2 separate regions of the Homo sapiens genome follow, and region 2 is linked to region 1. The links come from fine-mapping of genetic effects on gene expression. A gene starts in region 1. The other region holds a variant in brackets. All regions are shown on one strand. Distances are between the middles of the regions.

The links. PIP is the estimated chance that this variant, and not a neighbour inherited with it, causes the effect.
Region 2: its variant is the best candidate, but not a certain one, in a credible set for the expression of ACP2 in whole blood (TOPMed, PIP 0.53).

What each region holds. Positions count from the first base shown.
Region 1 is chr11:47,246,041-47,251,413 of GRCh38, reverse strand. It overlaps ACP2 (acid phosphatase 2, lysosomal), which reads left to right and starts at 2,600. Exons shown (of 11, transcript NM_001610.4): 1 at 2,600-2,738; 2 at 3,281-3,376; 3 at 3,687-3,773. The coding sequence starts at 2,625. It also overlaps a transcript of NR1H3 not described here. RefSeq lists a silencer at 2,157-2,324 and enhancers at 2,405-2,914, 3,045-3,134.
Region 2 is chr11:47,222,981-47,228,353 of GRCh38, reverse strand. The region is part of intron 3 of DDB2 (damage specific DNA binding protein 2); the gene reads right to left. Among named protein-coding and RNA genes, the nearest start is that of DDB2, 11 kb to the right of the region's middle. The variant G/A (reference allele first, on the strand shown) is at 2,920.

The DNA.
Region 1 (5,373 bases):
TCTTGAACTGCTGACCTCAGGTGATCCACCCGCCTCGTCCTCCCAAAGTGCTGGGATTACAGGTGTGAGCCATGTCCGGCCTAGGTCCCGTTTAGTCCAACTAATTTGAAAAGGTTTCCTTTGACAGATACCTCTTTATTGAAAGGATTTCGGGATCACCAATTACAGTTTAGTAATGCAGTTTGAGTAGCCTGCAAGAAGCAGCCCATTATAGACTATTTAACTGAAAATCACAAAACCTGACTTTTTTTTTTTGAGACGGAGTCTTGCTCTGTCGCCCAGGCTGGGGTGCAGTGGCACGATCTCCGCTCACTGCAAGCTCCGCCTGCTGGGTTCACGACATTCTCCTGCCTCAGCCTCCTGAGTAGCTGGGACTACCGGCACCTGCCACCACACCCGGCTAACTTTTTGTATTTTTAGTAGAGATGGGGTTTCACCATGTTAGCCAGGATGGTCTTGATCTCCTGACCTCGTGATCCACCCGCCTCGGCCTCCCAAAGTGCCGGGATTACAGGCGTGAGCACGCACCCGGCCAAAACTTGACTTTTAATCCATTCTCAAACTGTGCCCATGCCCAAACTGTGAATTTGGGCAAGTCACTTCCTCTCTTTAGGTTTGTTTCCTAAGCTGTAAAGTAAGAGGACTAGGTTAAATCAGGTATTCAGAGATGCTGATTTATGAAACCTGTAATAAATGGTCTTTGTGAACCATTTGGGATTATATGCAAAATTCCATGTGTGTGTTTATATGTGTGAACATTTTTCTGGAGGAGAGGTGCAAAATTTTCATGTGATTCATAAAGGGGCTTGTGATTAAATAAGAAGGTTAAGAACTGTTTGGCTACCCAGGCTTTGGCTCTTACTCTATTTGCTTCTTGGCCTCCTCCATGACAACTCTGGAAGCAAAGTTTAAATCCTGAAGTATATATAAATAATTGAATCTGGAGTCCTAGGACAAAATAAAGACAGATAATCCTGATCTTTTTTTTTCTTTTCTTCTTTTTGAGACACAGTCTTGCTCTGTCATCTAGACTGGAGTGCAGTTGCACCATCATGGCTCACTGCAGCCTCAACCTCCTGGGCTGAAGGTGATCCTCCCACCTCAGCCTCCCGAGGAGCTAGGACCACAGGTGTGTGCCACCACACCCAGCTAATTTTTAAACTTTTTTTTGTAGAGAGGAGATCTTCCTAAGCTGCTCAGGCTGGTCTCCAACTCCTGGGCTCAAGCAATCTTCCCACCCTGGCCTCCCAAAGTGCTGGGATTAGAAACGTGAGCCACCACACCAAGCCTAATCAGGTTTTTGTTGTTGTTGTTTTGAGACAGTCTCACTCTGTCGCGCAGGCTGGAGTGCAGTGGCGTGATCTCAGCTCACTGCAACCTCCGCTTTCCGAGTTCAAGCGATTCTCCTGCCTCAGCCTCCAGAGTAGCTGGGATTACAGGAGCACGCCACTGCACCCGGCTAATTTTTTTTTTTTTGTATTTTTAGTAGAGACGGGGTTTCGCCACGTTGGCCAGGCTGGTCTCGAACTCCTGACCTCAGGTGATCTGCCTGCTTCGGCCTCTCAAAGTGCTGGTATTACAGGTGAGCCACGGCGCCCAGGCCAAGCCTGATCAGTTTTGTTTCCCAAAGATCTGAGGAGATTTGCTTCCAGTAGGCAGATCTGAATCAAAGCATCCCCAGGACCTATGATCTGACCTGCAACCGTCACAGGAGTCACAAAGTCCTGAGGCCAAACTGGCTGCACCTGAATCCTAATGGTCAATGCCAAGAGGGCCATTGATTCTGTGGAAACCCCACCTACTCCCACTTTATGATATGCGCCTGTCCCTTACCTCAAAATACCTCCCCACTGGTCTGAAATTCCTCCCCCAGGGATTCAGTGCTTTGGGTTTGTAAAGTCTGAACATCCTGTGCAACCCAACTCCTTTGGGAAGAGGCATGACATGACGTCTTGACTCTAATTAACTAAAACTTGGAAGTGGAGGGGAGGGAGGACAGGGAAAGGACTGGAAGGGAAAGTGAGAGGGCTACTGAAGCTTTGTGCAGGGCAGGAACGGTAGGCCAGACTGGGGCAACCTCAAGGACACACGGAGTCCAAAGGGTTGTTTACATACTGTGTCCTGCACCCCAAGCAAAACATCTCCTGGAGAACAGGGCCAGGGCTCAATCTCCCCACAAAGGCAGGGGCGTGGAGAGAAGCGACCTCTACTTTCCCATCCCTCGCCTCAATTCTGCACCCGATCTAGCTATGGGGTCAAGCCTGGAGGGGACGCTGGTTCTCCAGACATGGTCCCGCCCACTGCAAGTGCCACCTTGGTAAGGGATTTCTCCGAGCAGAGGCAAACGCGAATTTGTGGCCTTCTTAATCAAGATGAGGTCTTCGAGCCCTGTCTGCCGCGCCAGGTCGCGTTACCTTCTTATGCTCCTCCGCCACAGCCAGACCACGACCCTCCTGCACGCAATCCCACCGAGACTGCGCCTTTTCCCCGCACCCCAGCAGGTCCCTAAGTAAGATGGCGGCGAACGCACTTCCGGCGTGTGTCCTTACGGGTGCGTCCGGGCGGCTGCTTGCAGGTGCCACCCAGCGGGTTCCAGCTTGTTTGCTGCATAGATTACAACGGTGATGGCGGGCAAGCGGTCCGGCTGGAGCCGGGCGGCTCTCCTCCAGCTCCTTCTCGGCGTGAACCTGGTGGTGATGCCGCCCACCCGGGCCCGGAGTCTGCGCTTCGTTACCTTGGTAATGAGAGATGGGCTCACCAAAGACTTCCCTGAAGCTAAAAGGGCAAAGGCCAGCTGGTGGAGGTCGAGGATCTCGGGAAGGAACAGCTGGTTTAGGAGGGGACGACTGGCCTGGGTAGTTGGGAGGCTGGATTCAGGATTGACCTGGAGCCCTGGCTTATGGGAGTCAGGATGACCGAATACGTCGGGGTGAGTCTGCCTTGAGACAGGGAAGTGGTTGAATGGTTAAGACTCATCCCTAAAGAAGCCTTTGGTTATCTTTTTTCCCCAGTTGTCCCCACCACATACGTTGCTTTCACTTCTCTTTTCCCTTCCTACCTGTACCTTGGCTTTGCCTATGGTCTCCAGTAGCATTGCTTAGCTAAGTTAGAATCTCTGGAATCTGGAAGAAGTGACTGACTCCTAGCTGGGGTCTTTTGCAGCCAGTAGGCTTCCCAGAGGGAATGAGACTTCCTTCCCTAACATGGGGCAAAAGGTAGGCTCTGGGTCCCTATCAAGGGGATGCTTCTGACCTATAGGCAAACCATTTTATTCTCTCAGCTGTACCGCCATGGAGACCGTTCACCAGTGAAGACATATCCCAAGGACCCCTATCAGGAAGAAGAATGGCCCCAGGGGTTTGGTCAGTTAACCAAGGTGGGTCAGAAGCCAGCCTTTCCTCAGGATGAGCTGCAGAATGAGCGACGTCTAGAGCAGTCTACAAAACTTGGGGTCCTACTAAACTGCCTTTTCCCATATGGGTGCTGACTTTGACCAGATTTCATAACCTTAATCTCTGTGCCCATGATATTGCTGTGCATGACTGGCCACTTAATGAAAGACTTCTGGGATCAGATTAATTGACTCCAGCAAAGCGTGAACCTGGAAAGCAACAGGGCCTAAACCCCATGGGGCTTGAAGCCACCCCTTCCCTCTAGACCCTCTTAACCCTTGGGTTTGCCCACAGGAGGGGATGCTACAGCACTGGGAACTGGGCCAGGCCCTGCGGCAGCGCTATCACGGCTTCCTAAACACCTCTTATCACCGGCAAGAGGTAAGGTTGGGAGCTCCAGAGGCAAGGGGAACAAGGTATGCTGCCCTCATCTTTTGCCCTCAGGGAGCCTAAGGCTGAGGCTGGGCACTTTGGCCTCCTTCTTGTATTTTTGGTCACAACTACAGGAAAAGACATCTGAGAGCTGTCTGGAACAAAGCCCTAGGAGCTGAGTTGCCCCTGCTTGGCTGGGATGAGGCAAATTTGATTAAGCATCCAAATTCGGACTTAAGGGCGGGCCTGGCAAAGTGGTTTCTGACTGTGAAATCACAGGCTTTCCATCCAAGACATTGAGTACCTATTAAAGGCCAAGGACTGTGCTAGCACTTTGCATTCAGTTGTGCACCATACAGATATGATCTCTGTCTTCATGGAGCTTAGAATGTTGTGGGGGTATCTAATGATAAACCAGACAGGGCCAAGATGAAAGACAGCGGGGAAGACATGCGTAGAGAGGGCTTGTCTTTTCTTGATCAAGATGAGGTTTTTGAGCCCTGTCTGCTGCGCCAGGTCGTGCTATATTCCTAGGGCACATCAGGGAGGACTGGTGAGTGTGCCTGCTCCTTGAGTCTTCGCCCCACCCCAGGAATGGGGGAAGCTGTTCCTCTGATTACCACTGTCAGCCTCAGCCGTATCAAGAATCCATAGACATTGTTATTGTTCTCTTAAGGCCCAGCTCTGTCCTGAGCTTGTCCTTCCCCAGTTTCCTCCTCCCTTTTCATGAGCCACTATCTCTGAATAAGCTCTTCAAAAAAAATTTTTTTTTTTGAGACAGAGTCTTGCTGTGTTGCTCAGGCTGGAGTGCAGTGACATGGTCTTGGCTCACTGCAACCTCCACCTCCTAGGTTCAAGCGATTCTCCTGTCTCAGCCTCCCAAGTAGCTGGGATTACAGGTGTGTGCCACCATGCCTGGCTAATTTTTGTATTTTTAGTAGAGACAGGATTTCATCATGTTGGCCAGGCTGGTCTTGAACTCCTGACCTCAGCTGATCCGCCTGCCTCGGCCTCCTAAAGTGCTGGGATTACAGGCATGAGCCACCGTGCCCGGCCCAAAATATATACATATATTTTAAAGGGGTCTCACTCTGTCACCCAAACTGTAGCACATGCCTCAGTCATAGCTCACTGCAGCCTCAAACTCCTGGGCTCAAGTGATCCTCCTGCCTCAGCATCCCAAGTAGCTGGGACTACAAGTGCCCGCCACACTTGGGTAATTAAAAAATTTTTTTTTGTAGAGACAGGGTCTCACTATGTTGCCCAGGCTGGTCTCGAGCTCCTGGCCTCAAGCGATCCTCCTGCATTGGCCTCCCAAAGTGCTAGGATTATAGGTGTGAGCCACCAGGCCCAGCCCTTTATCTTATTTTTTTCTCCCTGGTCTCTAAGGGTCGTCACTGGAGCCAGTTTCTGCCCCAAGGACCCTGATCTAGACAGGGAGAGAGGTGTTGTTATGAAACCAGACAGACCAGAGAGCCTTACTGATTGACTCAGCACTTTTGACTGGAAGGGGCATTTCAACTAAGGCCATTCCCACAAGAGTTCTTCACAGAGTGGTGACAACCCCCAGTGGAGTGTTTGGGGGATGGGGAAGGCCAGAGGCCAGAGG
Region 2 (5,373 bases), 23 kb after region 1:
TTGATCTTAAACCCTCCGTCTCCACAGACTAGAAAAAGAGGGAATAATTCCCAAGCTAAAGAGGGCAGCATAATTTTTTTTTTTTTTGAGACAGAGTTGTGCTCTGTCGCTCAGGCTGGACTGCAGTGGTGCACTCAGCTTACTACAACCTCTGCCTCCTGGGCTCAAGCAATTCACAGAAATCAGCATAATCTTTTTTTTTTTTTTTTTTTTTTGAGACAGAGCCTCACTCTGTTGCCAGGCTGGAGTGCAGTGGTACGATCTCACCTCACTGCAACCTCCACTTCCCAAGTTCAAACGATTCTCTTGCCTCAACCTCCCGGGTAGCTGGGATGACAGGAGTGCGCCACCACGCCCAGCTAATTTTTGCATATTTAGTAGAGACGGGGTTTCACCATGTTGGCCAGGATGGTCTCCATCTCCTGACCTCATAATCCGACCCCCTCGGCCTCCCAAAGTGCTGGAATTACAGGCGTGATCCACCACGCCTGGCCAGAAATCAGCATAATCTTGATACACAAATGTGACAAGGATTTGGCCAATTTTACACATGAACACAAATGCAAAGATCTTAAAATATTTGCCAGCTCAATCCAGTAATATTTAAAAACGATAAATATGTTATGGCCAGGATGAACTTATTCCAAGAATGCAAAGTTGGTTTAACTATTAAAAATCAATCGGGCCAGCTGGGCGTGGTGGTGGGTGCCAGCTTCTTGGGAGGCTGAGGCAGGAGAATTGCTTGAACCCGGGAGGTGGAGGTTGCAGTGAGCCAAGATTGCGCCATTGCACTCCAGCCTGGGTGACAAGAGTGAAACTCCATCTCAAAATTAAAAAAAAAAAAAAAATTCAGGCATCAAAAGAAACAATCGACAAAGTGAAAAGGCAATCTATGAAGTGGGAGAAGATATTTTCAAATCATAGATCTGATAAGAGGTTAATATCATGGCCGGGCGCAGTGTCTCACACCTATAATCCCAGCACTTTGGGAGGCCGAGGCGGGTAGATCACCTGAGGTCAGGAGTTCAAGACCAGCCTGGCCAACATGGTGAAACCCTGTCTCTACTAAAAGCACAAAAATTAGCCGGGCATGGTGGCGCATGCCTGTAATCCCAGCTACTCAGGAGGCTGAAGCAGGAGAATTGCTTGAACCCGGGAGGTGGAGACTGCAGTGAGCCGAGATTGAGCCATTACACTCCAGCCTGTACAACAGGAGCAAAACTCCATCTCAAAAAAAAAAAAAAAAAAAAAAAAGGTTAATATCCAGAATATATAAAGAACCCCTACAAAACAACAACAAATAACCCAACTAAAAAACAGGCAAACAGGAGTTCAAGACCAGCCTGGGAGACATAGCAAGATCCAATCTCTATAAAAAAAAATTTTTTTTTAACTTAGTAAGTCCTTTCTGTAAGAGACAGCGAAAAAAACAAAACAAAACAAAGTTAGCAAGGTATGATGGTGAGCACCTGCAGTCCCAGTTACTCGGGTGGCTAAGGCAGCAGGATCACTGGAGCCCAGAAGTTCGAGGCTGCAGTGAGCTATGATTGTGCCACTGTACTGCAGCCTGGGTGACCAAGTAAGACCCTGTTTCAAAAAAAAAAAAAAAAAAAAAAAAAGGCAAAGGACTTGAATAGACATTCCTTCAAAGAAAATATACAAATGGCCAAGAAGCACACGTAAAGATGCTCAATATCACTAATCATTAGAGAAATGCAAATGAAACTACACTGCTATCACCTCACATCCCTTAGGATGGCCACTATCAAAAAAACAGAAAAGGCCGAGCATGGTGGCTCACACTTGTAATCCCAGCAATTTGGGAGGCCAAGGCAAATGAATCACCTGAGGTCGGGAGTTCAAGACCAGCCTGGCCAACGTGGCAAAACCCGTCTCTACTGAAAATACAAAAATTAGCCGGGCATGGTGGTGTGCGCCTATAATCTCAGCTACTGGAGGCTGAGCCAGGAGAATCAGTTGAACTCAGGAGGCAGAGGTTGCAGTAAGCTGAGGCTGTGCCACTGCATTCCAGCCTGGGCGACAGAGGGAGACTTCATCTCAAAAAAAAAAAAAAAGAAAATAAATGTTGGTGGGGAAGTAGAGAAGTTGGGACATTTGTACACTGCTGATGGGAACATGAGATGGTATAGCCAGTATGGAAAACAATATAGCGGTTCCTCAAAAAATGAACAACAAAATTACCATTTGATGAAGCAATCGTACTTATTGGCATAAGCCCCAAAGAACTGAAATCGGGGTCTCAAAGGGATATTTGCACATCCACATTCACTGCAGCATTATTCACAATAGCCAAAAGATGAAATCAACCCAAGTGTCTGTCAATTAATAAACAGATAAACAAAAGGTGGTACACGCAAACAATGGAACATTATTCAGCCTTAAAAAAGGAAATTCTGCCACATGCTACAACATGGATGAATCTTAAAACACTGCATTAAGTGAAATAAGCCTGTCACAAAAAGACAAATACTGTATGATTCCACTTAGATGAGATATCTAAAGTAGTCAAACTCACAGAAACAGAAAGTAGTACTGTGGTTGCCAGGGGCTAAGGGGAGGGAGAAGTGGAGGCTTGTTCAGTGGGTATAGAGTTTCAGTTTTACAAGAAAAAAGTTCTAGTGATCTGTTGCACAACAATGTGAATATAGTTAACATTACTAAACTGTACACTTAAAAATAGTAAAGATTGTAAATTGTTTTACGTGTTTTCTACCAGTTTTTTGTTTTTTTTTTTTAAAATAGAGATGGAGTCTCGCTCTGTTGCCCAGGCTGGAGTGCAGTGGCATAATCTCGGGTCACTGCAACTTCTGCCTCCCGGGTTCAAGTGATTCTCCTGCCTCAGCCTCCCCAGTAGCTGGGATTACAGGCGCCCACGACCATGCCCAGCTAATTTTTTGT[G/A]TTTTTAGTAGAGACGGGGTTTCACCATGTTGGCCAGGATGGTCTCGATCTCCTGACCTTGTGATCCGTCCACCTCAGCTTCCCAAAGTGCTGGGATTACAGGCGTGAGCCACTGAGCCTGGCCCACAATTTTTTTTAAAAAAAGCAGTATTACTTGTTAGAGTTTTTTTTTTTTTTTTTAAAGACACAGGATCGGGCCAGGAGCAGTGTCTCAAGCCTGTAATCCCAGCACTTTGGGAGGCCAAGGTGGGTGGATAACTTGAGGTTAGGAGTCTGAGACCAGCCTGGCCAATATGGTGAAACTTGGTCTCTACTAAAAATACAAAAATTAGCTGGGCGTGGTGGTGCACACTTGTAATCCCAGCTACTCAGGAGGCTGAGGCAGAAGGGTCGCTTGAACCTGGGAGGTGGAGGTTGCAGTGAGCTGAGATCTCATGCCAGTGCACTCCAGCCTGGAAGAGAGAGTGAGACCTCATCTCAAAAAAGAAAGAAGAGGAAATAATAAATATGAGGAGAGAAATGGAAGACATGAAAAAAAATCCAAATTAAACTTCTAGAGGGGATATACAGTATCTGAAATGAAAAATACGCTGGGCTACTTTGCCTATGGAGCAGCCCTGCTCTGCACAGGCAAGAAAGAGAAGAGAAAAGGAAGAGGAAGAGAAGAGAGAGAAAGGAACGAAGGGAGGGAGGGAGGGAGGGATTGACAGCAGAAGGTTAGATATTACAGAAGTAAAGATCAGTGAACAACTGCACAAAATGAAACAGGGAAAAAGACAAAAATGAACAGTGCATCAACCACCTGCAGGACCATATGTAATCGCAGTCCCAAGAAAAAAAGAACTGTTCTTTTTCTTCATTTTGAACTCTTTGTAAGAAATAATGGGCTGGGCAAGGTGGCTCACGCCTGTAATCCCAGCACTTCAGGAGGCCAAGGTGGGCGGATCACTGGAGGTCAGGAGTTCAAGACCAGCCTGGCCAACATGGTGAAACCCTGTCTCTACTAAAAAAATAAAATAAAAATAAATAAATACAAAAATTAGCCAGGTGAGGTGGTGGGCACCTGTAATCCCAGCTACTCGGGAGGCTGAGGCAGGGAGAATCGCTTGAACCCTGGAGGTGGAGGTTGCAGTGAGCCGAGATTGTGGCACTGCACACCAGCCTGGGCGACAGAGTGAGACTTTGTCTCAAAAGAAAAAAAAAATCCATAAATCAAAGAAGCTTAGTGATCCCCCCACAAGCACATCATAATCATTTTTAAAGCGACCAGAAGAAAAATTACATAGACAGGAACATAAGGATAGTAGCAGACTTCTCATCAGGATGTTTTGTTTTGTTTTGTTTTTAATTGAGACAGGATCTTGCTCTGTCACCCAGGCTTGCCTAGCTCACTGAAGCCTTGTCCCCCTGGGCTTAAGCAATTCTCCCACCTCAGCCTCCTGAACAGCTGGAACTACAAGTTCAAGCCACTAGCTAATTTTTAAGATTTTTTTGTAGAGATGGGGTCTTGCTGTGTTTCCTAGGCTGGTCTTAAAGTCCTGGCCTCAAGAGGTCCCCCAGCCTCAGCCTCTCAAAGTGTTGAGATTACAGGCATGAACCATTGAGCCCAACTAGAAATCATCTTTATTTTTATTCTTTATTTATTTATTTATTTTAGACGGAGTCTTGCTCTGTCACCCAGGCTGGAGTGAAGTGGCCGATCTCGGCTCACTGCCAGCTCTGCCTCCTGGGTTCACACCATTCTCCTGCCTCAGCCTCCCAAGTAGCTGGGACTACAGGCGCCCACCACCACGCCTGGCTAATTTTTTTTGTATTTTTAGAACAGACAGGGTTTCACCGTGTTAGCCAGGGTGGTCTCAATCTCTTGATCTCGTGATCCGCCTGCCTCGGCCTCCCAAAGCGCTGGGATTACAGGTGTCAGCCACCGCGCCCAGCCTTATTTATTTATTTTTGAGACACAGTCTTGCTCTGTCACCCAGAATGGAGTGCAGTGACACCATCTCGGCTCACTGCAACCTCTGCCTCCCAGGTTCAAGATTCTCATGCCTCAGCCTCCCGGGTAGCTGGGATTACTGGTGAGCGCCACCACACCCAGCTAATTTTTGTATTTTTAGTAGAGGCGGGGTTTCACCATGTTAGCCAGGCTGGTCTAAAACTCATGATCGCAAATGATCCACTTGCCTTGGCCCCCCAAAATGCTGGGATTACAGGCGTAAGCCACAGCGCCCAGCCTAGACATCATCTTTAAAGTACTGACAGGAGAAAACTGTGAACAAATATATTGTATGCAATAAAATACAATTTTAATTTACCAATTAAAAAATAAAAGTTAAATAATTTTAAAAACTGTGAACCTAGAATTCTATACTTAGCAAAAACATCCTCCCTCAAAATAAAGGCAAAATACTTTTCTAGATAAACAACAGTGGAAAGTATTTATCACCAATCTGCATT